Regions from separate parts of the Homo sapiens genome. Here regions 2, 3, 4, 5 and 6 are each reported to be linked to region 1. The links are microRNA targets in miRTarBase. Many come from high-throughput screens and were not tested one by one. Region 1 holds a microRNA gene; each other region holds the end of a gene's coding sequence.

Region 1 (4,848 bases):
GGGAGCAGTATGTGCTCACCCACTGCTCTGCCAGCCCCGAGCCAGGCCCAGGCTCCACAGGCAGCAGTGAGTCCCCAGGCTCACAGGGCCCTGGCTCCCCCGAAGGTAGTGCTCCCTTGGAGCCCCCTTCTCAGCAGGGCTGCCGCAGTCTGGCCTGGGGAGAACCTGCAGGCTCCCGCTCCTGTCCCCTGCCTGCACCCACACCAGCTCCATTCAAGGTGAGATCCAACCCACATTCATTCGCCTTGTATCCAGCAAATATTTATTTACCACCTGCTGTGCACCAGATATTATGTAGAGTTTACTATTAAGTCTAGCTAGAGAGAAAGGTGGGTAAATCCCCAACGATACCATGTAACAACCAGTGATGAGCACAAGGACATGTATTAAGGGGGCTTAAAGTCAGGGTGACTAATTCTGCCTGAGAGAGTCAGGAAAGTCAGAGCCATATCTGGAAGAATAAGCACGAGTTAGCCATGCAGAGAGGGAGAAGACATAAACGAAAATACAGAGACAAGCAACAACCACAAGTGGGAAATAGGGAGTGGAGTGGGATGATGCTGGGAAGGGGCCAAGGCCAGAGGTCACTGTAGGCCATAAGGAACTTGGCCTTCCTCCTCAAGCTGGTGAGCGGCCACCCAGGGTTTCAGAAAAGGGGCATGGGCCAGCTGTGCACCCATGTATGATGGTCAAGGGTTCTGCATTCCTTGACCAGTGGCCCCCATATCTCACATGCAGGTGGGGGCCTTGAGTACTGAGGTGCTGGGCCGTCAGCACAGAGCGGCTCTGGCTGGCCGAAGCCTCTCATCCCCTCCAGGCCGGGCAAACCAAGTCCCCGGCCGACCCCGGAAACCCTCTTTGGGTGCAATACTAGATGGCCCAAGTCCTGAGCCAGGCCAACAGTTGGGACAAGGCCTGGATGACTCAGGTAAGTGTTGGATGGGGAGCTGGTTTCCCTGACACCAAAGAGGCCTTGGGGAGGTAAAGCCCAGAGGACCACTCTGCCCATGCCCCTGCTGTCTTGCCTCCCCAGGAAACCTGCTCTCCCCAGCCCCTATGGACTGGGACATGCTGATGGAACCACCCTTCTTATTCACGGCTGTGCCTCCTAGTGGGGAGTTGGCCCCTCCAGCAGTGCCTCCCCAGGCTCCACGCTGCCATGTGGTGATCCGGGGCCTGTGTGGGGAGCAGCCCATGTGCTGGGAGGTGGGTGTTGGGCTGGAGACACTGTGGGGACCTGGAGATGGCTCACAGCCTCCCTCACCTCCTGTAAGAGAAGCTGCTTGGGACCAAGCACTCCATCGGCTGACAGCAGCCTCTGTGGTCCGGGACAATGAGCAGCTGGCCCTCCGAGGAGGGGCAGAGACCACAGCTGACCGGGGTGAGTTGCTCATGGGTCCAGTCAGGACCCAAAGGCATGGGCTAAAAACAGCAAAGGTAGAGGTCTGTGTGTTTGATCACTCTCTATACCTCGCTTTGATCACAAAGGATTTGAGGCTCATCACAGACAAGATAAAAAATTAAGCGGGACAATGGGAAAAAGTAAAAATAAAAGGAAACTGAGAATGAGGTTATATTAAAGGTGCATGCTGTGAGGTTATATACTCTTGCAAGGATCAGATCCAGAACTGACAAGCTTCCTAGCAGCCAGCACAGAGGGCAACGTGATCCTGTCATGATTCACAGCACCCACAACGTAAAAACAAATCTTTGTCATTTAGGAAAATACTTAAAGTTCATTTCCTCAGTTGCACTAACCACAGCTGAAGTACTCAATAGTCAAATGTGACTAGTGGCTACCACATTGGATCATGAAGAGAGAGAACATTTCCAAGTTTTATTAGTGCAGAAGCAGGTGGAGGAAAATGTGCCAGCTAATGCTTCCTCTGGGTGTTGTCCAGAGTGCTGAATTTCTGGGCAGCCAGGGGGCTCTTGCTCTGCTATGGGTTGAAGATTCAGCCTGATCACTTCTTGTCAAAGTTGGGGAGTCTGAGCTGGTTCTGGGCCTAGCAAGGCAATCTACTCTGTTAAAGTCGATAGAGGGAGAAGCTGGGGAGAACACTGCAATTTTTTCTATGAGCCCTCTGTAGAGGGTGGGTGGTGGGGGCTCCACAGACTGCTCCTTGGTTCCACAGGCCATGCCCGGAGGTGCTGGCTTCGAGCCCTTCAGACAAGTAAGGTCAGCTCTGCCCCCTCCTGCTTCACTTGCCCTGTAGCTGTGGATGCTACTACTAGGGAGGTCCTGCCTGGGGCCCTGCAGGTGTGCAGCTCAGGTAGGGGCCTCTTCTGGTGACCTCTCAGGTGCAGCTCTCACCTCACTGGCCACTCTCCTGGACAAACCTGACTCCTGTCCCATGTGCCCCTGCAGAGCCCGCTGAGCCCCCAGGAACCCCTCCTGCCTCTCACAGCCATCTAGATGCAGCTCCTCTGCCCACTGTTGTCTACTCTAAAGGTAACACCCAAAGGTAGGGAAAGGGTAGGGGCACTTGGGCTTAGAGACCGCCCCCTGGCACTGATGATCCCCACTGCAGGACTTCAGAGAGGCTCTCCAGCAGGCGCCTGGGACTCGGACCAAAATGGCAACTCCAAGCGTGCTTTGGGGGACCCTGCCACTCCCACGGAAGGTCCTCGCCGCCCACCTCCCCGTCCTCCCTGTCGGCTCAGCATGGGCCGCCGTCACAAACTCTGTAGCCCTGACCCGGGCCAGGCCAACAACAGTGAAGGCAGCGACCATGACTACCTGCCCTTGGTGAGGACTCGGGAGGTGGAGGGTGGTGCCGCCGGGGCCGGGCGCTGTTTCAGCTCGCTTCTCCCCCCACCTCCTCTCTCCTCAGGTGCGGCTGCAGGAGGCACCAGGCTCCTTCCGCCTGGACGCGCCCTTCTGCGCCGCTGTGCGCATCTCGCAGGAGCGCCTCTGCCGTGCCTCGCCCTTTGCCGTGCACCGCGCCAGCCTCAGCCCCACCTCGGCCTCATTGCCCTGGGCACTTCTGGGCCCTGGTGTTGGCCAGGGTGACAGTGCCACGGCCTCCTGCAGCCCGTCCCCCAGCTCGGGCTCTGAGGGGCCAGGCCAGGTGGACAGTGGGCGGGGCTCAGACACCGAGGCCTCCGAGGGGGCGGAAGGGCTGGGCGGCACCGACCTGCGGGGCCGGACCTGGGCCACTGCCGTAGCACTCGCCTGGCTGGAGCACCGATGCGCCGCTGCCTTCGACGAGTGGGAACTGACAGCGGCCAAGGCTGATTGCTGGCTGCGGGCCCAGCACTTGCCTGACGGCCTTGACCTGGCCGCCCTCAAGGCCGCAGCCCGAGGGCTCTTCCTGCTACTGCGCCACTGGGACCAAAACCTGCAGCTACACCTGCTGTGCTACAGCCCAGCGAACGTGTGAAGGCTGCCCCCTGCTGCTTGGGCTGGCGCCCCACCCAACACACTCAAGTCACTGCCGCCCAGGGCTGGCCTCTTGGTGCTGGGAAAGTGTAGGCTGGTGCCAGCCTGTCCCCCACTGCTTCTTACTCCCTCCCTAGAGCCCTCTTGCCCCCACAAAAAGTGCCTGCCTGTGCTCTCTCCCTCTCCTCCCACCCCACTCACACTCCCCTCCATCCTCTGAGCTCCCTGCAACACAGTGGAAGGGTAGAGAGCCACAGTCCCCAAATCCTATGCAATAAAGTGCCTCTTAGGACTGCTTGAGTGAATTCTTTATCTGCTCCATACGTGTCCCTCACAGCCTGGACCAGGCATCGGCTGCCCCCACCTCCATGTAGGTTGCACAGAGTTGGACTTAGCAAGGTTTATTTGGAAGGGCAGAGTCCAACCAACCCCAGGTCCTGAGGGTAGACTCAGGTCCTGAGGGAAAGGGGTGGACTTCAGTGGGCTTTCTTGCTGTGTTGGGTGCTCTTGGGGAAAGGCTGCGGGCCCAGCCAGAGCTGCAGCAGGATGACGGCATGGCATATGTGCAGGGCAGCAGAGCTGCAGGATGTGGAAGGGTATGTGTTCCAGGAGAGCTCGATGAGCCCCAGCACCAACAACCTGGAGATGAGAAACAGGTTCCACGTTTCATCCAGTTGCAAGGCCTGCAGACCTGCAGCTCCTCATGCCCTAGACATAAACCCCCAACAGGAACTCCCTATCCCTTCCCACTCCCCCAGGTTGTCCCAGCTGGTACCTGAGCAGGTGTGTGAGCCAGCGTGCAGGCATGGCCCACAGGAGGTAGGGCAGTGTGTGGAAATACCAGACGTAGAACTGGTAGTGGAGGGAGCGGCTGAAGCAGATGCCAATGAAGTTGGAGGTGAAGAGGGTAGAAACGATCTGTATGCGGTGGTCAAGGCCAAGGGCAGGAGTGTGTGTGGGGGGGACTATCCCAAAACAGAGGGGCAATAGTTTTTAGGTCACATAGCCCTCTGGCTCTGCCATTCCTTGATGCATGCCTTTGGGCAAGTTTATTAACCTCTCTGGACCTGCTCCTCAACCAAATATGGAATATGGAGAGAGTAATACCTAGGGCCATAAGGTCTTGTGGGTTTGAACCCCTAACTTACTGGCTGTGTGACCTTGGTAAGTTACTTAACCTCATGAAGTCTTAATTTTTCCATCTGTAAAATGAGAATAGTAAATGTAAGTGTACCTCCCTGTCTCGGGGTCTCTTGTGAGCTTTCAATATTAGAACATATGTAAATCTCTTATGATAGTACCAGGGAGAAGTACTCATAAGAGTAGCTCGTATTTAGAATTAAGAATCAAATATCCTTCAATATGTGAAGTGCTCAGCACAGTGGTGCAGAATAGGACTTCTATGATTGGGGTCCCCTTTCCTCGCCCAGGTCACCAGCTGTCAAGGGATACCTGACCAGGACTCT
Region 2 (4,848 bases), not on the chromosome of region 1:
ACACAGAACTTTTGATAGTTTTATTGTTTATACTTATAGACCTGACCAAGCAAGCTCCTCAAGATAGGGTTGTTAAAGGGCTACAGCCAACCTGATTCTCTACATCTGAAACAATAATTACAGAGCTCTTCTGGAATAATCAAATCATAAAACTCTACCTCGTAGGATGGAACAGAAACATTGGCTCAGCTAAAGAGTGGGTGTTTTCCTTAGATTGTGGAATCATGGCTGATGGTTAGGACCTTAAATATATCGAGGTGGCTAATTGATGTATAATAATTTACAAAATTATTCTTCTATGCTACAGAGCTACAATTCAATTTACAGTAGTAAATATGAGGGCCTTCTTAAGGAACCAGAAATATGAGGATATGCACAATATTATTCACATTTTACAGATCAGAAAATTGAGGCACAGATTAAGTAACTTCCCAAGGCTACCAGGCATTCTAGCTCCAGAAACTGTGCTCTTACCATTCTGCTACAAGGTATTTCGAAAAAAAGAAAAAGTAAAAAGAAGTCAAAAGGCAACAGAGTTCATTGATTATTCCATAGAACAGTCACACCATGCAATTCTCACACCCTTGCAGACACACTTGACCATGAAAGGTTCCTCAATGAAATGTTCCTCATTATCTTCAGAAGCCATATTATTCACATTGACTTTGCAGTTAACTCAGACCCTAGGTCTGGAATGCTGTCTTCTCTACTTATCCAAAACTATACATCCACAGATCATATAAACTCTCAGCCCTGCTGCAAAGCCTTTCCAGAAAAATAAAAATGGTTGAAAAGGCAATTCTGCTACCAATGACTGTTTAAGCCCAGCCAAGTAACTGAACCATTCCAACTTCAATTTACTTATGAAAAGAATTTGATGATGTAGGAGGTTATTTCAATTCTAAAATACAAACCCATGTTGATCTTTCTCAATCTTGAACTCATAGATTATTATCTATTATCTCAATTTAGTTTGTTATTTATCCTAGTGGGCCATTAAAAACTACCACATGTGTTTCTGTCTCTCCATTAGTCAATAACTAAACTAACGAGCAATTAGTAAGCCATGTGCCAGATGCTCCGCTAGGCACCAGAGGGATAAAAACAATACTTATAGTATACCACTAATTTTCGCTTAGTAACTAGTGAAATGTTCAAGTCATGCCTGAGTCAAGAGTTGAGGAGACATTACAATGTGTAATGGAAACCAAGGAAAGTGAAACTTTGGATAAGTGGGGACTAGTGTATTTATATATTTAATTGATTTCTGACTCTATCATTGGCCTCCAAACACAGATTGTGTTTTTCTTTGGTTTTGTTTTCTTCACTATGGGATCTTCTGTGCCCAGCACAGTGCCTGACACATAGAAAACAATCAAATATTTGCTGAATAAATGATTAAAAAATCAGAGAACTTTCCCATTCTGTTTGGATCTATAGAACATCCAGAGTAAGTGATGAGGGCCTCTGCATTTATATGCGCTTAAATTAAGATTATGTGAGAAAAGTTTAAAGACACTTAGTAGAGTGATTTTGAAATATAGTAAACACTTGGAAATGGTGGTGCTTTAAAAAGATATTAATAGATAATATGAAAATCTCCATCTCAAAAATAATGCATAAACTATTTAAAGGAAAATCACATCTCCAGGCTTTCAATGTTTGTTCATTACTTTTTCATATATTTTTACCATCTGCTGAAGGCAGTCATATCAAAGGGTAAAGAAAGATGGGAGGAAAACTCAGTAAGAATTATATTAGTCTGTTTGCAAAGTAGAAAAAGATTCTCATCACTCAACCTTATGAGCAGGAAGAGGGAAGGCTGTTTGAGAACCATTTACTTAGCAGAACCACATATTTTAGACACTTCCCTGCATTAACTGCACAAACAATATGTTTGCAAACTTGTTAGATCAACCTCCAACAACGACACATTCAGGAGTTAAATATTTTTCATCAAACATTGGATTTTTCCTTAACGCTAGAGATTGCTACAAATCTTCTGAAGGGTCTCAATGGCTTCAGGCTAAGAAGAGATTTCTCCCTGTTATAAGCAGCAAGACAAATTAGCCATTTCACTCTCAAACTTCACTAATGATCACATTCTTTCCAAAAGGAACTCTAGAAGACCAAATGCCCCGAGTTAAGAACATCAAAACTAACCATCTGAAGAAACTTCCCAAGTGTAAGACTCTGCCATTAAAACATTACCGAGAGGGGACTCAAACAGTCTTTCTTCCTTTGTCGTGTTTCTTGCTCCCAGACCAAGGCACTGACGACAGTACTGATACATAATTTAAAAGCACACTCCCTTCCACTTTGTAATACCAGAACTCTAATTGGACACCCTGAAGCTTAGGACTACCAGCCATACAAATAGTAAACTCTGTCCACGATTCACTCATCTGTGTATTTTCTATAGATGTTTACTAGGCGTTTGTTATATAAAAATACCCCGGCCAGGCACGGTGGCTCACGCCTGTAATCCCAGCACTTTGGGAGGTGGGTGGATCACCTGAGGTCGGGAGTTCGAGACCAGCCTGACCAGCATGGTGGAACCCCCATCTCTACTAAAAACACAAAAAATTAGCCGGGCGTGGTGGCACATGCCTGTAATCCCAGCTACTCAGGAGGCTGAGGCGGAGAATTGCTTGAACCCGGAAGGTGGAGGTTGCGGTGAGCTGAGATTGCACTATTGCACTCCAGCCTGGGCAACAGGAGTAAAACTCCCCCCCACCCAAAAAAAAAAACAACAACAACAAAAAACCAAAAAACCAAAAAACCAATGGTAAATTACACTCTTTCCCTTTCCCCAACACTCTCTCTCTCTCTCTCTCTCTTTCACACACACACACACACACACACACACACACACACACACACACACACCAGACCGATTAGCTAACTTAGTGGAAAAGACACTTAGATTCCTTCTTCATATGTGAATTTAGCTCACAGGACTAGTGAGGGAATATCATTATCACGGGAAGACACAGAAACCACACAGGACTCTGAGCCACTCCTAGTTTTACCCCTCCTTAGCCTGTGACTTGGCTTTTCTGCTCCATCATCTACACAAGAAGAATAGCAGTGACTAGCACCCACAAGCCTCTCAGGATAGACTTGGCAGGCAAGGTAACCCACCACTTAAGAGCACAGGTTTAACTCCAGGCTGAATACTGCCCTGGTCATTTCACTAGCTGTGTGACCTTAGTATCAATATGTCTGGTGCATAAAAAATGTTAAATGATAAGCCCCTGTCATTTCTCCTTTAAAAATTGCAAAGCACTCTACGAATATTCACTTCTATTATCTAAAAATGCACATAAAAAAGACACCCAGTAATAGAATATTCATCAAATGCTCTCTCAGTGTCCAGCATCATCTCCTTCCTTATCGCCAAAGCCAGCCTGCCCTCCCCAGATAGGATGCCCACATCTCCCACATGCTTACAGAGGCGAACAGCCAGCCATAATTCCATTCGGCAGCCTTTGAAGACTCAGCCAGCTGTATCAGTTAATAACCTCACTAAAGGTTATCCATCAGAAAGAAGGGAAACAAGTCCTAACTACTCTCGTCAGAGAAGTCATTAGATCCGTACATGGCTCCTATACAATCTGCCTGGCATTTATGGAAATAGCACACACCATAGGAAAATGTTGCCAAAGCAGACAAGTATTTAACCTAAATATTCAATAGTCTACTAATCCATTTCCAAGGTAATCTATCTTCAGAGCCTCTTTCTGATTCTGTACAGTTCTGACCATTTATTGTTTGCTCAAGCTGTAAAACTTTTCTTTGGGTTCCATAGCCATTTCAATAAATCAAACTTGCCTTTTCTCCCCTTCCTGTTAAATAGTAAAACCATGTAGAATAGTTCCTAGACTAAGTGATTTAACCTCATTCCTATTTGTCAGAAGCAGGCTTCACTGATTTTTTTTAACCCTCTGATTGAAAGTCTTCTTTCTAAATGAGAATACTATCCTTGGAATATTGGATTTCATTATTGGCCCGTTTCTGTTTAATCTTGGAGAAATCTCTACAAAAAGGAAACTATATTATTTTCTTTCCAGAAATTTAATACAATTGTTCCATACACTTTAGAGTGTGACATGGTTCAATCTTCCATGTTTATAAGCACTAACAGATACCAATATGTGAATAAAACGCATGATCTAACTTCTAAAAAATAACACCTAGGATCCGTTATAACAACGTGCTATGCTGTGGTCGGACAGACAAATAAAAACTGCATGGTGTGGCCTTATCCCTCCTGAATAGCATATCCAGACCAACATTTGAAGATGTCCACCATATCTTGTTTTAAAAGGTTTTCTGTGCCTACAAAATACTTATATAAAATGACTGGAAGATTTTTATAGGAAATTTCTTAAATAATTTATCATCAGAATGAGTCATGTAGAAGTGCCAAGACTAAATTAACATACCCTTCAGATGTAATGGAAATCCAGTCTTTTCTCTGGGGACTCATCTAATTCTCTCTTCTATAATTTTTGGGAGAATACAGTAAAAGCATTTAATACAGTAATGGTATTAGCAAAACAAGGACTTATTTAAGAGGCTTTACCTGGATCATTACAAGTATTACCGAATTATAAGATAAAGGGTGTTGGCTTCTGGAGATTATTAAAAAGTTGATATAGAAATTCCTCATTCAGAGAGAAGAGGGATAAAACTTATTATTCTAAGCCAGAAAGTCTACACTGTGAACCAATCTCTATACCAAAACAAGTATTTTCAATCTCAGAAATAGCAAATGATTATGGAGCCCTCACTTGTGACCTATCAAAGTCAGGTTACCATCAAGTTTTATTTGATGTTAATAAC
Region 3 (4,848 bases), not on the chromosome of region 1:
TTTTTTTTTTTTTTTTTTTGAGATGGAGTCTTGCTTTGTTGCCCAGGCTGAAGTGCAGTGGCACGATCTTGGCTCACTGCTACCTCTGCCTCCTGGGTTCAAGCAATTCTTCTGCCTCAGTCTCCCAAGTAGCTGGGACTGCAGATGTGCACCAACATGTACCACAGTGCAAATTCCAGGTTGTCTCTTTAGTAGAGACGGGGTTTCACCATGTTGGCCAGGCTGGTCTCAAACTCCTGATCTCAGGTGATCCACCTGCTTCAGCCTCCCAAAGTGCTGGAATTACAGGTGTGAGCCACCATGCCAGACTGATGCTTTCTATGTGTAAAGTTAGTCTTCACAGCCATCTGGTGAAGACTGTAGTATTATCATCATCCCCATTTTGCAGATGAGGAAACTAAGGCAGGAGGGCTTAAATAACTTGCTCAGATTTGTACCATAATAAAAAGGCAGAACTGGGACACAAACTCATGCGCTTTGCCTCCTGAGCATGTCTTTGAGCCACGGAGTCAGACATATTTGCCTAGCAGTGCTATAAGAAAAGCTAGGCAGAGACAGGAACAGGGGAGCACTGGCCACCAGATCCAGAACCTTAACATTCTTTTCCCGGTAACAGGCTTCATCCCTCCACCCCTCATCTTCGGGGCTGGCATCGACTCCACCTGCCTGTTCTGGAGCACGTTCTGTGGGGAGCAAGGCGCCTGCGTCCTCTACGACAATGTGGTCTACCGATACCTGTATGTCAGCATCGCCATCGCGCTCAAATCCTTCGCCTTCATCCTGTACACCACCACGTGGCAGTGCCTGAGGAAAAACTATAAACGCTACATCAAAAACCACGAGGGCGGGCTGAGCACCAGTGAGTTCTTTGCCTCTACTCTGACCCTAGACAACCTGGGGAGGGACCCTGTGCCCGCAAACCAGACACATAGGACAAAGTTTATCTATAACCTGGAAGACCATGAGTGGTGTGAAAACATGGAGTCCGTTTTATAGTGACTAAAGGAGGGCTGAACTCTGTATTAGTAATCCAAGGGTCATTTTTTTCTTAAAAAAAGAAAAAAAGGTTCCAAAAAAAACCAAAACTCAGTACACACACACAGGCACAGATGCACACACACGCAGACAGACACACCGACTTTGTCCTTTTTCTCAGCATCAGAGCCAGACAGGATTCAGAATAAGGAGAGAATGACATCGTGCGGCAGGGTCCTGGAGGCCACTTGCGCGGCTGGGCCACAGAGTCTACTTTGAAGGCACCTCATGGTTTTCAGGATGCTGACAGCTGCAAGCAACAGGCACTGCCAAATTCAGGGAACAGTGGTGGCCAGCTTGGAGGATGGACATTTCTGGATACACATACACATACAAAACAGAAAACATTTTTTAAAAGAAGTTTCCTAAAATAAAAAAAATTAAAAAAAAAAAACCCACAAGTTGAAAACATTGCCAGATTAAGCACTAGTGACACACCCCGTGCCACCCTCTTCCTCCAGGTGGGGGTGGGGGCGGGCGCACAAGTCGGAGGGGTGGAAGCACCACTCCTCTCTCTGACTTTCGCAATATGGGTCACTGTGTAGACGACTCACCCAGTCTGCATGTGGTTCAAGGCCCCAGAGTTCTCTCAGTGATGCTAATGGGTGATCCGTGCTGGAGTTTGTAATTGGCACCTCTCACCAGCTCCATTTCCATGTTCAAGACTGAGGGCCTGAGGGGGAGCCAGGTGGGGGGCCAGCACCTCCCAGTGGCGGGCATCCACCTTCCCCCAGCCCCACAGAGTGACCTCAGGAAGCAGTAGGCCTCGCCTGGCTATGACTGACCCGGCTCAGAGCTGGTGAGACCCAACGCAGTCCAAGTCATTTGCTTACATTTGCCAAAAACATTTTGCCATTTTTAAAAGAAAAAAATACAATCCATATGAATTTCAAACTGTTGTATGTATAATCCTCTAATACTATTTTTAACTACTTCTAAAATCTGTGTTAACCCTTCAAGTCACTAACACAGTTCTCTAGGCCGGATTTATTATGCTGGTTGCTTTTACTTTTTTTCTCCTTTTTTAATGCACCAAAAATATGTGATACAAGGGATGCAATTAACCTATTGTAATTTTCATCATTTTATCCTCATTCGAATATTCTACAAAAACAAGAATATACAATGTGTTACAAGAAGAAAAAAAAATGCTTCAAAAAGAGAGTGTATATGCAGCCTGCCTTTAAAAGAATCACATTTGAGACAACAGGGGATAATGTGATGAATTGCAAATTTGCCTTTTAGCTTCCTTCCCCATGATTCAGTGATCACTGTCACGGGAAACCCTTTTATATTCATGCTTGACATTCCAAGAGGCGTTCTTTTCAGCCTGTGGAGGAGACACTCTTAGATGTGGGTTTGTGTGTATGGGTGCAACACTTCCGGGGATAGGAAAGAAGAACAGTTCCCTAACACAAGCTGTTAAGAAGTCTGTAGCATCTCTGATAACGAATAGACCCACAAGCTCCTGGAAGCTGTCGTGTGTCCAATGCGTGAAAATGTCTGTGACATTTTCAGTGTTAGTCTTGAACTAAGGCCCTTGTCTGTGTGTTTTGAAGGTGGGTGAACCTCAGAGAATGAACCTGTTATGATTTGGGGTAAGAATCACGTTGGAAAACCTCTCGCAACCAGCACACTAGGCCTTCTACGGCCATTTCTGTAAGGGGACAGAGCTTAGGTAAAGGCACACACTCATACACACACAACAAAGGGCCCTGCTAACTTACTCCTCATGCTGCTTCAGTGACCTTTGTTCATGTCACATTCCTGGCGCTGGAAAAAAAACTCAAAGGTTGATTGGTTTGCTTTTTCACCTTGGACACATTTGCATTTTACCCACAAGGCAAACAAAAGAATCAGGAAGTAAAAAATGGTTGGGAGTGGGACAGGTATGGTACCGAATTTTTAATGAACATTGTAAATGAAGAGGCTTGAATGACAGCCCAAATCTAGAGAAGGCACTCAGCAAGACCAACCAAAAGAAAAGCTGTGTCGTGGTATGGGGCCACCGTGATCAGCTACCTGGGGCAGGATGCTTCTGAGACAGGCCTTTCAACTGCTTAGTGTTAGTATGTCCTTGCTTATGAAAATGGGGACACTCATCAGTACGTTAACTACTAAAGGGGAGATGGTTCTCCAACCACTTCATAAAATATGTATGTTCTGTTGTTCCTAAGGCTTTGATAATATCCTGTACAGATTTTGGTTTAGTTTTGCAAATATATTGCTAATAGGTCACTCTTATAGATTATTGCTTGGCCCTTCAAACTCAGTACACACACACTGAGGCCCTTTGACCTAGTGTTTTATGGAACTATTTGCTTTGAGAGAAAAAAAAAAGAAAGTTTTTTAAACTCTTTGCATTTTGGATTTTTTTTCCTAAGATTTTAGGATGAATGTGAAAAAGATGTTAGAATAACAGGAAGACAACTCCAGGGCTGAGTTTTATCAGCAATTGGGTATAAATTTAAAGACCGCTGTTGCAGGATGGCTCTGAATTCTGTTGTGTCGTCTTTTAAAATTTTAATTATTCTCATATAGTACCGAACAGAAAACTCAGTCTAGTTTTAATTTGCCTTTTGTGCTCTAAAGAAGCATTGTACATACAACACTAGATCCAGCCCCTCGATTATCTGTTTGGTTTCAAGTGAATGAAAAGATTTCCTGGTAAGATCATTGGATTTACAGAATACAAAAATGTACGGGATGGAATAAACCTAGAAAGTGAATGCTAGAGTTCTCTCTCTTCTGCTACAAACTCCTACACCATCTCAGCTGAACATGCCCAGGGTGGATGAAAAGTCTCTCTCTGCTGAAATTGACAGATCTTTGTAACTCCTACGTAGAGACAAAGAAGGTTTGGGTTTTGTTTTGTTTTTTGTTTTGTTTTGTTTTGTTTTTCTACCAATATCATTCCCTCCTATGAAGTAAGCACATTTTGCAAAAATGCCTCTCTAGGGGACAGGGTTTGCTGTCTTCTCTCAGCTGAGGCTGTGTGCTCTCAGGGAACGCTGGCTCTGAGGCACCCTGGGGGACAGGGCTCCAGAAGGCCACAGCATGGCATGCGGGCTTTCCTCACAGCTAGCGAAGGAGTGGAAGCAGCCTCCTCTCACGGTCCCCCCGAGGAGCTTGCTAGGAACACTTAACAGGCAAAATAATAACTGGAAAGCCAGGAGCTCCTAAGGAATCATTTGACAGGGTTGCTAACGTCTTCCTAGCAGGAGGGAGCGTGCCCCTCCATAAAAATCACTTCCTTCTCACCATCTGATCATGGAATAACTCGCTCTAGTGCTGACTTTTAAAGATTGGTTGAGTGTCATCTGTACATTCCAGTCCCCCGATTCCACTGCCCTGTGTCCAGTAATTGCCCTCCAGCTTCCCCTCACTCACACTATGGCAGGGCTTCCCAGCCCTTACAGTCAAAAAGCCTGCAGAAACGTTCCACACAAGGGCAACCAGCTGGTCCCTGGGATGGTAGTCACACCACTCTTGAGGAATTTTCCCAGGAAAAAGATTCTCCTGTGGTTGCTAATGGATATTCTTTCACACCTTCCAGAGGAGGTCATTCACTGAGGAACATTTAAAATGGAGATAGATACATGTACTAAAATAGAAAAACCTCCAAGGAAAAGTAGTTTCTGGGTCCCCGTGTGCCTGCTGGGCTGGTTTTCTTGCCGCCTGCTGCTTCCGGTCCTAGGAAGTCTGGTTTCTTCTCCACCCAGCCATGCCTGCCAGACCTGTGCAGTCTGCTCTAAGCCCTGCTAGGAACTCCAAAGGCCCTACTCAGCAGTGGCAAGCTATGAAGGTCAGTGC
Region 4 (4,848 bases), not on the chromosome of region 1:
GTCCAGCTACTTGGGAGGCTGACGTGCAAGAATTACTTGAGCCCAGTAAGTCGAGGCTGCAGTGAGCCATGATTGTGCCACTGTACTCCAGCCTGGGTGACAGAGCAAGACCCTGTCTCAAAATAATTAATTAATTAAAATAGGATAAACTCTGGCAGCCTCAGGTCCTTTATTTTTGAAAACGAGGTATCTTGTAAAATGGTTTGGAAGTTTAAATGGAAAGGACACAGCACGTGCTTGGCGTCCAGTTAATGGATTGAGTTATTTAATGGATTCAATCTATTTGGAGGGTGGAACAAATCTATATTGTCGCTTTCATGTTGGCTCATCGAATGCTGCCTCAGATGTAAACACAGTGCTCTGCAGCATTTCCCTTTTAGTGACTCACAGGAGGATCTGCAGTGTAGCTTGTCTTCCCAGTCCTCTCAGCCATTAATAGATTGAATCTGCCATGATTCTTCATGAGCTGCATCAAAATTTCAAGCTGTCATTGTCTTGTTTTTGAGCTTTATTTGAACTTTTTTGATGAAAAAAATATTTTACAGATTTGGAAATCATGTTAGTATAGTATGTGGTGGTTTGTTAAATGAAAAAAATTTCCTTGAAGAATTCAGTTCTAAGGACTGTTATCCTCAACACAATTTTAGTTCATTCTGTATCTTCTTTTTCTTTTTGCAGTTGTGGGATATGACCCCAGTCGTGTCTTGATGACTCTCCCAGGAATCAGAAAGATAGTATTTACTAAAGAAACGGTTGTTTTAACCCAAATCATTACCAGAGTGGTAAAGCAGACATGTGAGAAGTAAGAAAGAAACTAAAGACCCTGAATGAATTTGCAGATTACCCATGTGCACAGTGGGGACCTGGCCAGTGAGCACTCGCAAGGGGACTCTTCCAACTTGTTCATACAATATAAAAGAAGCTATTTTTTTAACAAATGGTTTATACAGTCTGGCTGTGCTGCATTGTTTTGAGTGTACCGAAAAATCTGTGTGGGGTGTTTAATTTTTATACTTTTCAACACCCCATTTTACTTGTTGCTTTGTCAGAGAAATAAGGGAGGTATCTACTCAGAGTATTTTGGTCATTATACTTTCTGTGTTTACTTCAACATGTGTCACGTGGCCAGCGGCTTTTTCTTCTCTTCCCTCTGCACCTACCTGCACCTTCTCTGCCTTTCCTGGAGGGGATGTATTTATGTTATTTATTCCCAGTGTTTCTGCTTTCATGTCCTCCTCAGTGGAGAGATTTGGAAACTCATCATGTGGATTCACCAGCCAGCTGCTGGAATTGCCTGAAGAGCGATTTGTTTGTAATGTCTGCCTCATTCACGTTCTTATGAAGTAGAAAAGACTGTGTTTCTGCCTCAGTTGCCTCTGTCTTTCCCACATTAAAAAAAAAAATGCTGTGAGAAAGCTGCTCCCAACCATGGTTATCACAGAAGTAGATTATTTTAACTCAGAGCTTCAACGATCAGTGCCTGGATCATTTAGAATTCAGTTGGAGCCTCCTGAGCCTCTTGTTTTAGCTTTTTTGACGCAGCTCTCCCTCACTCGTAACAATGAAAACAAATGACACACACACAAAATCCTACATCAGCGGCCCTCAACCTTGTTGGCAGCAGGGACCGGTTTCAAAATGAAACTGTTCCACCTCGGATCAGCAGGCATTAGCTTCTCATAAGGAGCACGCAACCTAAATCCCTCGCATGCGCAGTTCACAATAGAGTTTCTGCTCCTGTGAGAATCTGACGCCACCGCTGATCTGATGGGAGGCGGAGCCCAGGCAGTAACACTTGCTTGCCCACTGCTCACGTCTGATGGGTGCCCCCATTCCTCACAGGCTATGGACCAGTACCCATCTGCAGCCCAGGGTTGGGGACCCCCACCATACATGCTCTGAAAATAAGTGTCTTTAAGTTGTGTTTTTCTGTGTGACATCATCTCTGAACTTGAACATGTTCATTACGGCAAGATTGTAATCCTGCTGTATTCCTCGCCCTCTGTATTCTATCCCTTTAAAAACTAGATATTTAAACATTTTATCCTAATGTGTTTCATCAGAACACTTTGCACACTTTCTTACTAAAACGGTATGTGGGTGGTCCGAGACAGAATGGTACCTACAGTGCAGGCTATGTTTCTGTGGGAATGGAAAAGAGGACTTTAGAAAGTGAACCTGAAGAACTCTTATTTCTAAGGGAATCCAGTCAAGCTTGAGAAAATGAAATATTCTTGTGTGTAGTGATTCAGCTCAGGATATTGAAGTCCCTTTTAAAAATCTTATTTTCACCTGTAAAAATAGAATAAAAATTAATGGCAAGCCTGCGCCAGGTGCCTGCCCCTCCTAAGCACTTTACACGCACAGCTCATTCAACCTCACGTGTCGGGAGCATCAGGGAGCTCACCAGTCTCTTGAGGATCACAGGCCAATTGCTTGTCCTTCCCGACCCAAGCCCCACCCCACAGTGTCTTGCTCTCTTCTGATTTTACAGGTTTTTTGGCAGTAATACACATGGGAGTGAAATTGAAATCCTCCCTATTATTTTCCCTCTTTTCCTGGAAAGCCGTTTTTTGCCCTCACAATCATTCATTACTTCTCTAACTAGGGGGAAGTACTACAAGCTGTCCTCAGGTACTGCCCCTACGTGTGTTTCCCTGGGATGGGGCCTTGCTAGAGGTGATTCTGCTGCCCCAGCATTGGGAAGCAGGACCAGTGCATGTGCCCCATGCAGCCACGGTACATGGAAGCTGTCACTTGAGCCATCAGACCGGCTCAGCCCATGTGACCGGAGCTCTGAAGAGGCACACACGCATGCCCCGCACAGGCTGTTAGCACTTGTCGCCTCGCTGCCCTGGTCCAGACTACCCTTGCTTGCGTCAGTCAAAACTGTTGTAACTACTTTGAGTCTTTTCTGCATGATTGCTCTTTGAGAGAACTTTAACAAGGGAATTAAATTTAAAATATTCAAATATCTATTTTGTAGTTTATTACTAGAAGCTGCAGCCACTTACTAAGTTGTATGTAATATAGGACTGTGTGTTGGAAATGAGTAATAGAGCTGAATCACTCCATTTTCCCTTCCTAAACTTTGAGCTTGGCCTGCCGGCAGAGAGAGGAACACAGTATTAGGGCAGCAAAGGCCCAGGCGCCCAGCAAGCCTGTATGGGTTCTGAGATGGGTCTAGATGCGTTCAGACCTCATTCGGGAAGCAGAGTGTCCCCGTCAGATCACATATGTCCTCTACAGTCGCTCTGGCCTGTGACCTTGCACGCCACTCTACCTTCTCCCTCCCAGCCCACAGAGCCACTCAGAGGCTGAAGCCACTTCACAGCCCACTGGTGTTGAGAATCATCATCAGAAAACCAGATATGTCAAGGTATCCATTGCTCTTTCCTTTTCTCTCATCTGTGTGGGTGCTTGAATTTGGTGAAATGCGTTTAGCAAACCAACTGTGTGTTTGTAATACTGTGAATTCTTGCGTTTTGCATTAAGTGTCTCCCCCATTTTTGTAATTTGTAGAGAAATATGTGCTGGTGTTGGGTGTCTTCCAAGCATTTTATGGAAATGGAGGCTCCATTCCTTAGGAGTAAAAGCTGGCGCCAGCACTTGGCTCTTGTTCTGTCTAGGTGAACTCTCATAATTCTTGTTTTACCCTGTTGGATTTGCACTTTACATATATTTTTGCTCTATTACTTAAACATATAGCAGCTTTTACAAATAATGCCTAACATGCCTGCGCTGAGAAAGTGGCAGATCTACACATATCATACGCAGAGTTGTTCTCTACCTGATGGGGCAAAACCAACCACATGTTCTTGGTTCCTCCAAACGAATGACATTACTTGACATTACTGCCTGAGTGTATCTTCACAATAGCAAAATGGTTTGAGATTAAGCATTTGGAATCTTATGTCATTTTGTATGGGGTCAATCCACCATAACGTGTTTCTCATTTGGTTTTAATTATTTCCAGAAATCATAAAGTCACAAAACTGGAAGGGATCTTCAGAGATCTAGAGTGTTTCAAGCAGAAAACACATTAGTTATACAGGGCAGTTAGATATGGCTGAGATGTAAACAAGAGAATCTAAAAGAATGTTCAAGGAATAGCTGTTTTTGAACATTACTTAGTAATGGCATGAGTGGGAGGAGAGACTTTCAGCACCTTGAGACAGGGCGCTCTCTGGAACCAGCTTTGTTCCTCTTATCGAAAGCATATATGACAGTTTTTTTGGCTCCGGCCCTGTGGTGGGGGAGGTAATTATTGCCTTCATCCACATAAATTCCTTCCTATACATTCCCCTCAGACCACCCCAGAGGCAAAACTGAAATGGAAATCCAGTGGCACTTAAAATTCACCCTGCCCCGTTTGGCTGCGATTCCCAGGCTTACAGCACTGCCCTTATGGAATATCACATTTTCATTTTCTGAGATTCATTTTATAAAAGTAAAGGCCAGGTGCCATGGCTCACACCTATAATCTGAACACTTTGGGAGGACAAGGTGGGAGGATTGCTGAGCCCAGGAGTTCAAGACCAGCCTGGGCCACACAGCAAGATCCTGTCACTACCAAAAATTCAAAACTTAGTTGGGTGTGGTGGCACACACCTGTATTCCCAGCTACTCAGGAAGCTGAGGCGGGAGGATCACTCGAGCCCAGGAATTCAAGGATGCAGTGAGCTATGATTGCACTACTGCAGTCCAGCCTGGGCAGCAGAGCAAGGCCCTGAATAAATAAACAAAAGTATAATTTATTTTTGCCTGATATTAATCACTTCTTAAGGCCCAAATTTTTGTTTTTAAGCAAAAGGATAGCTCTAAGTGTGGGTTGCAGTTACTGGACAT
Region 5 (4,848 bases), not on the chromosome of region 1:
ATTCTCCTGCCTCAGCCTCCGGAGTAGCTGGGATTACAGGCACGTGCCACCACGCCTGGCTAACTTTGTGTATTTTTAGTAGAGACAGGGTTTCATCATGTTGGCCAGGCTGGTCTTGAACTCCTGACCCCAGATGATCCACCCGCCTTGGCCTCCCAAAGTGCTGGGACTACAGGCGTGAGCCACTGCACCCAGCCATTTTTTCTATTTCTATCGTTCCTTCTACATTTGTGATTCCATTGTGTATGGGATTCTATAGTGTATTTTTAGTCAGTGGACTATAACCCATTATTGTCATTATTTTATTGCTCAAATTGCCCAAGATTTGGCCACTGAGGGACATTCAATTTGGTTCCTGTGTCCTTTCAATATGTCCCCCATGTTCTCATTACCTACCATATATTTGTTTTCCCCATCCTAATACACACATAAAATACTTCCTGAATTACTAACTTCTGCTTCTGTGAAAAATTTGCTAACTAGACTCTGGTATTTGTGTACAGTTCCTTTTCTCTTTCTAGTATCCCATCAAAATGCTATAACTTCTTATTTTTCTTGCCCACCTCCTTCAATGTGGTTGTATTATGCATCTGAAATACAGTTAAGTTCATTTGTTACTGTTTGTATTTCATTTTGAACTCTCCTCATATCCTGGTTGACTTTAATTATTTTGGGGGGCATGAGAAACATTACTATGGCTCCAAGACTCACAGTTATACAAAATATACTCAGATACACTCGGCAGTGTTCCATCCCTTCCTCCTTTACACCGTTATGATTTCTCCCTTCTTTCTACTCTAAACCCACCTACCATCCATAGACAGCTCATTACTTTCTGGCCAATCTTTCCTTATTTACTTTGCATAAACAAATAGATACATGTGCTTTCTTACATCTCCTTCTTTCTTACATACAAAGTACCACTTTCTACTTTTTGTACTTTGCTTTTTGCATTTAATATATCTTGAAAATAACTATACCGATTCATAGAGATCTTCCTCATTTTTTTTATAGCTCAATAATATTCCATCATGTGGGTATGCCATTGGTGCCATGGTTTACTCAGGCTTTCTCGTGTATATGAACATGACTTTGCTTCCAATATTTGCAGTCTCAGTGCTGCAATGAGTAATCTTGTGCATCTGTATGTTTGTACTGTTGGAGGTGCATCTTCAAGGGAAATTCCCACAGTGGAAATGGTTGTGTCAAAGGGTAAATGCTTCTGCAATTTGTTAAGTACTGACAAATTCCCCTCCAGAAGTCATACCAGTTTGCATTCCTACCAACAGTGATGACAGTGTGTTTCCCTATAGCCTTGCCTAACAGAAATGTGTTGTTCTTTCTTTCACCAGTCTTAGAGATGATAAATGGTATCTCAGTATTATCTCAATTTACATTTCTCTAATGAGTTAGTTTGAATATTTCATTTTAAAGAGCCATTTTTATATCTTTACGTGAGTATGTTCATGTCTTTTCCCAGTTTTTCTATCAAGTTTTTGGTCCTTTGTCCCTTAATTTTTAATTCCTTATATAGTAAGAACACTAACTGTTTGTCTATTATATAGGCTGGATAAATTTTTCTCCCAGTCATTTGATTTTATTGTGTTTTTACTAAGCATTTTTATTATCTTCATGTAGTCAAATGTGTCAATATTTTGTTGCCACTGGATATTTCCACCACGTTTCCTTCTGTATTTATATGGCTTCATTTTCTTACATTTGGATCCTGGATCCAGATGGAGTTCATTCTTGCATATGGTGTGAAGTACAGGTCTAACTTCAACTTTCTCCAAGGGGCTTTCCAGTTGGCTCAGCACCATTTATTAAAGTCTGCTTTGACCTGCGATTGAAGATGCCACCTTTAACTCCTCATCCCCCACCCCTAAGAAACCTCACGGAACATATGACCCAAGAGCAGAGCAGACATAAAAAGATTAACTGAGCTACTGAGATTCGGTCAAGAATGTGAACTAAAAATGAACTGTTGAGAATAAGGCTGGAAGATCCAACAGAGGGAAACGGCTGTGGAGGTCATTGCCAGGTGAGGTGTCAGATCCCCGGCATTGGGAAGTGGTCAACTCGTGGGTTGGTAAAAAGAATTCACCAACAACAGTATAGGTTTGAAAAAGGAAAGGTATTAGAAGAATGCTGCAGAAGACTGCCATGGGGCACCTCGGTGAGAGGACTGAATGTACCACGGTGGATTTTTCCTTAGGGATATTTATGGACCTTAAAGCGGGACCGTGGGGTTGCAGTGAGTTTCAGCATGGCATTCCGGAGATGTACAGAAATTTTAGTTACTTCTAAGGTTTTTTTCGGGGAAAAGAAATCTGGAACCAGATGCCTGCTTTAGATAATAGGAAAGTCTAATTACTTTTAATTTTCCCCAAATAAGGCGTTTTGCCTCTGCATGGCCTGATAGTCACCAGGTGGTCTTTGCTCCCTTTTAAATTCCTCAGATAAAAAGATTTTGTCTCTGGGACCTGTTCAATGGTCACTAGGTGATTTTTGCTCTCCGCAGTCATGATGTGATGGAAAGCAAAATAGCAAACAAGGGAGCTGGATGGCGATGAAGCAGAGACAACAAGCAAGCTCAAGCTCCTGCAGAAGGGTCCGTCCCTGGAATCACCTCGGCTCACCTGTACCGTTCCAACAAACCCTTCCAACCAAAAGAGCCCCACCCCAAAAATGCTTTTGAAATCCTGAGATGTGATCAGTGAAATATGCAGCCAAGGCAAGGGGAAACTGTCCGCAAGTTAAAAAGATTTATTGCTATTCCAGGCTTCAAATGAGCCCAGAACTCAGGGCTGGTGTGTGTTTCAGAAGTTGTTATGATGTAACAGGGTGGTAGAAAAATCCAGGCAGTTTGATGTCGAGGCCACCCTCTCTTCCTTGGACCCCTGCTCCAAAAGCAGCTGCTGGTGAGGCTCTTTCCCATCTGCCTCATTCACCCAACAGGACTCCAAGACTGAGGCAGGCAGCCTTGTGATCCCCACAGCTCACAGGTGAGAGGCTGCTCATACCTCTCCTAGCACTGGAAGAGCCTTGTCCTTGGGACCGGACACTATGGCTTTGGCCCTGTGGAGGGAGAAACGGTGCCACAGGAGTTGTCTTAAGAGGACAAGGCATGCACGGTCTGAGATCAGAGGTTGTGACGTGGCCACCCATGAGCCAGTCCGTTTGGGACACATCACACTGCACAGCTTTTTAAAAAAATAATTAGCTGCCAATCTTTTAAAATGGTAAGATTTCATATACAAATCTGGATTTTTGGCTTCTCTAGGAGTAAACATTGAAACTTTTTTTTTGAGACAGAGTCTCACTCTGTCACCAGGCTGGAGTATTGCCAGTATCTGGCAGTTGTCTTCACAGACTGGCTATGCACTCTCCAACTGACTCCAGTCCTTGCCACCCTTAATTATATTTCCAACTGGAGACCAGGCCTCAGCAGCCTTGTATCAATGGGCACATGTGCTGTGACTTTCTGTGTAAGAAATATTTACATTGTAATAGCATCTTTAATCAAAAAGGAAAAATCGGCTGGGTGTAGTGGCTCATGCCTGTAATCCAGCGCTTTGCAAGGCCAAGGTGGACAGATCACGAGGTCAAGAGATCGAGACCATCCTGGCCAACATGGTGAAACCCCATCTCTACTAAAAATACACAAATTAGCCGGGCGTGGTGGCAGGGCCTGTAGTCCAAGCTACTTGGGAGGCTGAGGCAGGAGAATTGCTTGAACCCAGGAGGCGGAGGTTGCAGTGAGGTGAGATTGCACCACTGCACTCCAGCCTGGTGACAAAGTGAGATTCTGTCTCAAAAAAAAAAAAAGCGAAAAATCGAAATCAAGCCTGGAAGCAACATGTTTCTCACGGTTCTTATCAGTCATTTAAGTCTCTTGCTAGGCCCTGCGGGTACCTGAGTTTGTAAACAACAGAGCACTCCTAATATCTCCCCCAAGGGATTCCTCCCCCACACACCCTACCTCTCCAGGATACACTGCACCCTAGTATTAATTGGGCAAATCTAGAAAGGAAATAAAAATTAGTCACAGAAGTTAAGGGAGGAATAGACTAAGAGCAAATACTTTTGCCCCTTCATTGTAACAGGGGGCCGGAGGAGAACAAAAACGTTAATACTCTCACTTCGCTTTTAACTTAGTGACAAAAAAAAAAAAGAGTGAAAGAGAGAGAGTCATAAAGATTCTTCAGGTCCTAAAACACTCTGGTTCCCATTCCTTAACTGCTTTGGAAATGAACGAGGCTCTTTAGAGAGAATGTTAACGGGGATGAGTAACGTGGTCAGCCCAGCAGATGCCCTGGGCTATCAAGAACTGTCCAACTCATTCTCCCTTAGGTCAGGGCTGCTTGCCCCAGCCTAAAATGTAAGTGGTACAAAATGATTTTCAGTGAGGGTAGTGGACTCACTGTAGAAAGGGGATTAAAGGGGGGCAGAGAGTGGGAGTTTGGCCTTGGCAAACACAAAACAGAGGAAAAGGGACCTTCCTCACACCGCTCCATTCTGCTGTGGCAGATGCCATGTTATATGCCCTTTAGAGAGGCAGCGATCTTGATGCAGCCCAGACGCTTCCCACTGCTGCTCAGGACGCTCTCTATGCGGTAGTTCCCGGTGGTGAGCCAACTGGGCAGCTCCAGGTCAGGCACAACGAATTCGCTCTTGGGCAGTGAGTAGGTTCCCTGCGGGAAAGCCAGTGGACCGCCAGTCAGTGGGAGCCTACTGATGGGGTCTTTCTCCTAGAGCCACTGCTAGGATTGCAGCCATGAACTACCACCCCTCTTCCCATTCTCAAAACAGCCGCACAAGATGAGAGACGGCCATAGCACTGTAGAG
Region 6 (4,848 bases), not on the chromosome of region 1:
TAATAAAAATTTATTGACTTACAAGTGATTATTTATCAAAAGACCATTAATAGCAGGTACTGAAATGATGTGTTACTGGGTGGTGCTGGGAGACTAATAGGAAATCAATGCAGCTGGCCGGCCAGAATGCATATGAGAAGCCCACCCCCCGGCAGCCAGCGCAATCACCCCCGCAACACACGCCAGGTGCCACCCCTGGCGCAATGAAAAGTTCCCCCTTTTTATTTATCGTTTACAAATGAAATGATCAATACTTTTAATCTAGAGCAAAATTTATTAACTTTCCCATCGGAGAGAGACATATTGACTGGGGGAGAGAGTGGGGTGTGCGTGCTGTAGAAGATGGATGGCTGCGTGGCCATATCCTAACCTGTCCGCGAGGCAGTGCACCTGCAGCTGCCCTTCCAGCCTACGGACCGGGCCACCTGGGACAAGTGCACCTGGAGAAGCCGAGTCTGGCCACCCGGGATGCACAGCAGGCAGGTGGGACCTATGACATGGGGGGATCCTTCATGCATCAGGGGACACTAGCAAGCAATAGCCCAGAAAATCAAGTTCCTGGCCAATTCCAGGAAGGAAATGGCAGGATTCAGAGACCCAGATTTCCACAGGACAACAGGGTTAGTGCCCACTGTTTGCTGTGCCGTGAAGGTCACACGATGGCACCCAAAAATGCCTGTCACTGGTCTGGGAAGGGCATTTCAGGGATCTGGAGCACTCCCCCTGACCCCTCACACATCAAGCCTCTTCTCTGAAAGGCAGCACCAGGGACGGATTCTGACACGGTGAAGCATCAAGTCCCAAGGCTGGTTCTGCTGTCAAGGGAATCCCACTAGCTTTATTAAAAAGTTCCCTCTTGGCTGGGCGCAGTGGCTCACGCCTGTAATCCCAGAACTTTGGGAGGCCAAGGAGAGTGGATCACCTGAGGTCAGGAGTTGGAGACCAGCCTGACCAACATGGTGAAACCCAGTCTCTACTAAATACAAAAAATTAGCTGGGTGTGGTGGTGCATGCCTGTAATCTCAGCTACTTGGAGGCTGAGGCAGAAGAATCACTTGAACCCGGGAGGTAGAGGTTGCAGTGGAGCTGAGATTGTGCCATTGCACTCCAGCATGGGCAACAAGAGTGAAACTCCGTGTTTAAAAAAAAAAAAAAAGTTCCCTAACTGGTGGGTGGAAAGTCTCATGTTTGAGTAAAAAAGGCTGTCTGAGAACCACAATGAAGATACTGCCCAGCCTGAGAGCAGTATGGCCCCAGCCCCATGGCTGCCTAAAGCCCTTGAGGTCACCCTCAAGTGGGTTAGTTCCACTAGCCCTGATGTTTTAGAGAAGCAATGGATTCAAAGCTGACTTCCCGTATTTCCAAACCCAGAAGACTTCAGAGATCAAAGCCAAAGTTTGAACTATGGGCTTAAAAACAGAGAATTCAGAGGTGGACGAGGTCTCTGAGGTCATCTAGCCAAGTCCCTAGTTATGACTCAGGAGACGGATGCAGAGAAGTGAAGGTGCAGCAGGCTTGGAGGGGGGTTAGCAGCTGACCAGCACTTTCCACTCATTACACCACTGGGTGTCATTCCCAGCTCAGCCCCACCCTTGCTGGGGTAACAGGAGGGAACACATTATTTTGTACTTTGCATGTTTCTAAGTGTCTTGAGTTTTTGCCCCATAAGACCAACTCGGTTACCCCAAACCAGATACTCTGACTATGGGTCACTTGGGGCTTGCAGGACCCCTAATTTAAAAGGATGGAGCAGTCGCCTGGATGATGGTAAAAGGCATACACGGAAAGGGGAGGTTACGTTTCTGCAGGCGTGAATCAGTGCTCTCCTCACTGCCCGGCCCGCACAGGACTTCCCTCCACAGCACTGACTCCACGTGACTTCACACCAGGTGCGGCCACACCTGCCGGCAGGGGCCGCAGACAGCTGTGCTGAATGTGAGACAAAAGCAAAACCTGTGTGTGTGTGTATATATAAATACCTATGCAAATCACGAAAGTAACAAACCATAAAGTTTCAGATGAACTTTTTAAAAGAGAACCTGATCTTTTAAGACCAATTACTGATCCCTCCAGTTGGTTTACAAACACTGTAAACATCACCTATAAAAGCTGAAAATCACTTTTTATTCTTAAGCATTTTGTAAAACAGTTCCTAAGAGACTTATTAGTCATAACACTGACTTTATTTTTTCAGTCTTCATTTGAGAGCAAAAAGATTTCCCCCGGGCTGGCAACAGGGCAGGTGAGGAAATGGGAGGCTCTCCCAGGGAGGTCACAGGTAGGTGCAGAGAAAAGGAGATTGCAGGGCCAACCCAGCAGGTACCACATGCAAAGTGGATCTGTCTGCAGCCCCAGGAGCACAGCTTCACTCCCACCCACTCCCTGAACTGCAGGCCAGAGGGCGACCTTGGGGACGTGACACTCAGCACCACAGGCACAAAATCCTGAGAGGCATCATGACTGTGCCACGAGGGAGCATGGGTCCCAAGTGAGGGCTGGTGGGGCATGAATGGGGAGCTGAGGAGCATGAAACTGGTGAAACCCCAGAACCCACAGGGGCTGCTTGGCCTTGGCTCTGCCTCCACTGTGACTGTACAGCAGGCACCAGTGGCCGACTCTTTTCCTGTGGTGCCTGCTCTGGCTGTGCAGAAGCTGCCATGCAGCACATGCCCTGCCCACCCTGCCCCTCTGCAGCCCTCCCCTGTCCCTCCCCTGCAGAAGCCACCATGCAGCACAGGCCCTGCCCCGCCCCGGCCCCTCTGCAGCCCTCCCCGGGCCCTTGCTCCTCCCCCACCCTGGAGTTTACTCATTGCTTCCCCTAGGCCTCACATCAGCGACCCGCACACACCCCGTCTCTGGAGAAATCCACGTCTGTGCTGGAAATTCTAAATTAACCAAAGATCTGCAAGCATCTGAGACGAGCTGTTCACCTTCTGAGCTGCAGGGTTCCTCGCTCCAGCAGTCAGTTGGCTTCTCCGCAGCCCCAGGGCCATGCTCCCAGAAGAGAACGGGAATCCTCACGAGAAGCCTGCTACTCAGGGCCACAGCCAGGGGAGAAAGTAAAGGGAGAAGTCCCCCAGTTCATTCACCAGCCAGTTTTATTTACTCACAAGAACAAATCCAAAGCCCAGTGCAGCAGCTCTGAGCTCAGGCCTGCCGTGCCCCGTTTTGTGGGCCTGTACTTGAAACACTGAACGTGATGTGTCCTTCACTCACCCGCAGCACTTTAATCCCCACAACAGCCCTGTGAGGTAGGAATCACCACCATTCCCCCCGACTCATATTACAGATGGGGAAACCGAGACACACATTCAACAAAGCGCGCATCACATGGGGAGTTCAGGGTTAGCCTGGAGTACGAACACACGTTCTCCCCATGGCCCAGTCAGCGGCCCACCTGGCCTCTTCCCCTCCCTTTAGTAACCCCATCAGCAGCAGCATAAAAATCTAACCCTTCATTTTGCTGAAAGCCCCTGCAGATGACAGTTTCCTTCCTATCATGTCTGCAGAGCTCCAAGGCTGGGGGCGATGTTGAGGCCGAAGCCAGCCACAGTGCCTCAGCTGTGCCTTTCCTGGAGAGCGGGTGGCCGCCCCCAGCACATCCCTGGCACACGGGCTTGCATAACAGACTCTTGTACCGCCATCTCTAGCACAAGACCATGGCCACATCTCCCCAACCACTCAGCCCGCACAGCGTGCAAAGGTGGGGAGTTCACTTTAATGGCATTCCTCCAACGACTTATTGTAAAAGAAACAAGGCATCTCGTCCTGGGTCGCAACACCCAGCAGCATCCGTTTAGACCACCAAGGGTAGGCTGCGCCGGGTGCACAGGGATCCCGCTGCGGCTCGGCGAAAGCCGGAGTCCTGGGATCCAGAGCAGCCCGGGGAGCCCTGGAGTCTGGAAAGGACACAGCAGTGGGGGCGGCGGCGGCAACTCCAGCTCTGAGCCCGTTGGCACCCCGCACGGTGGCCCCAGCCAGCTGGAGGCAGGCTCAGGAGCGGCTCCTGTCCTTGTGGTTCCCCACGATCATCTTGCTGTACAGCTTCTGCTGCTCCTCCTTGAACGTGTCCTTCACCTTCTCCCTCTTCAGGCCCCCATCCCTGGAGAGACAAAGGCTGGATGTAGTAACAGCCAAGAGGGCTCCCAGCCACGCTCACACCATGGGAGATGCACCATGCTGCCCAAACACCAAGAAAAACCTGCCAGAAACAGGGTACCCCGTGGCACTCTCACCAAGACAACCTCAGGGGATTTGGGGCTCCGGGATCCCAATATCCACCCTTTCTATCTCAAAAGGTCTACCCTTGCCCTTGGGTGAGAATTTACTACTCACATTCAAGGTACTTGATAACTGCTTAAACCTACCAAGGAGTTTACAATTCTTTCTACTCTAACATTCATCTTCACCTCACAAAGGAAAAGGAGGAATTCTGGCATTATGGAAGGTAGACATGCTTTAAGAAATATCGACTCATAACGTATCTGTAAAATCTATCTGTAAAATGTCATTTGTTTAATTCAGACCCAGGGATACTCTGAACTCATGCAGAGAGCTAACACAAGGGGTAACGCGTGTTCTGACTTCTTCCATGCTCAAAAAAAGAGTGCCGTCAGGAATGGAGGTTTACCTCCGGGGCTGCCTCTCAGAGTTCCAGCCTCACTGCCCCCGTGCCTCCCTGCAGCAGCCCCAAACCAACCCACCAGACTTGGGATTGTTTCATTACAGTCCCATTGCCTCTTGCCTGCTGGCCCCCTCCGTGCCTACACTCTAGAATTATCACCACCTTCAACAACTTATAAAAATCCAAGCCCGCTTTCAGTCTCTCCGCTACACCCTTTAAAATCC

The links. The annotated mature microRNA hsa-miR-1224-3p reads CCCCACCUCCUCUCUCCUCAG and lies in region 1 at 2,814-2,834, shown strand. An mRNA with a match to its seed (bases 2 to 7 or 8) in the 3' UTR can be bound and repressed. Matches are read on the target gene's strand: a 7mer-m8 pairs with bases 2 to 8, a 7mer-A1 pairs with bases 2 to 7 and ends in A, and an 8mer does both.
Region 2: miRTarBase lists PBOV1 as a target of hsa-miR-1224-3p. Seed matches in the 3' UTR shown: 7mer-m8 at 2,501-2,507.
Region 3: the mRNA of SLCO3A1 is a reported target of hsa-miR-1224-3p. Seed matches in the 3' UTR shown: 7mer-m8 at 1,495-1,501, 7mer-m8 at 1,722-1,728 and 7mer-m8 at 2,593-2,599.
Region 4: miRTarBase lists WDFY2 as a target of hsa-miR-1224-3p. Seed matches in the 3' UTR shown: 8mer at 4,505-4,512.
Region 5: the mRNA of GM2A is a reported target of hsa-miR-1224-3p. The part of its 3' UTR that is shown has no 7-base or 8-base seed match.
Region 6: miRTarBase lists GPAT4 as a target of hsa-miR-1224-3p. Seed matches in the 3' UTR shown: 7mer-m8 at 3,393-3,399 and 7mer-A1 at 2,370-2,376.

Annotation. Positions count from the first base shown.
Region 1 is chr3:184,238,656-184,243,503 of GRCh38, forward strand. It overlaps MIR1224 (microRNA 1224), which reads left to right and starts at 2,750; the gene lies at 2,750-2,834. It overlaps VWA5B2 (von Willebrand factor A domain containing 5B2), which reads left to right. Exons shown (of 20, transcript NM_001390846.1): 14 at 1-218; 15 at 739-928; 16 at 1,034-1,381; 17 at 2,136-2,273; 18 at 2,369-2,452; 19 at 2,532-2,749; 20 at 2,835-3,674. The coding sequence ends at 3,383. ALG3 (ALG3 alpha-1,3- mannosyltransferase) reads right to left here. Exons shown (of 9, transcript NM_005787.6): 8 at 4,158-4,302; 9 at 3,646-4,021. The coding sequence ends at 3,859. RefSeq lists a silencer at 3,266-3,560.
Region 2 is chr6:138,213,883-138,218,730 of GRCh38, reverse strand. It overlaps PBOV1 (prostate and breast cancer overexpressed 1), which reads left to right and starts at 240. Exons shown (of 1, transcript NM_021635.3): 1 at 240-2,745. The coding sequence starts at 336. The coding sequence ends at 743. The region is part of intron 4 of ARFGEF3 (ARFGEF family member 3); the gene reads right to left.
Region 3 is chr15:92,162,140-92,166,987 of GRCh38, forward strand. SLCO3A1 (solute carrier organic anion transporter family member 3A1) reads left to right here. Exons shown (of 10, transcript NM_013272.4): 10 at 617-3,764. The coding sequence ends at 996. Among named protein-coding and RNA genes, the nearest start is that of ST8SIA2, 230 kb to the right of the region's middle. RefSeq lists an enhancer at 2,500-3,257.
Region 4 is chr13:51,759,062-51,763,909 of GRCh38, forward strand. It overlaps WDFY2 (WD repeat and FYVE domain containing 2), which reads left to right. Exons shown (of 12, transcript NM_052950.4): 12 at 679-4,848. The coding sequence ends at 708. It also overlaps a transcript of DHRS12 not described here. Among named protein-coding and RNA genes, the nearest start is that of DHRS12, 43 kb to the right of the region's middle.
Region 5 is chr5:151,267,142-151,271,989 of GRCh38, reverse strand. It overlaps GM2A (ganglioside GM2 activator), which reads right to left. Exons shown (of 4, transcript NM_000405.5): 4 at 1,550-4,694. The coding sequence ends at 4,539. Among named protein-coding and RNA genes, the nearest start is that of GM2A, 16 kb to the right of the region's middle.
Region 6 is chr8:41,620,147-41,624,994 of GRCh38, reverse strand. GPAT4 (glycerol-3-phosphate acyltransferase 4) reads right to left here. Exons shown (of 13, transcript NM_178819.4): 13 at 1-4,102. The coding sequence ends at 3,994. Among named protein-coding and RNA genes, the nearest start is that of NKX6-3, 28 kb to the left of the region's middle. RefSeq lists an enhancer at 1,895-1,994.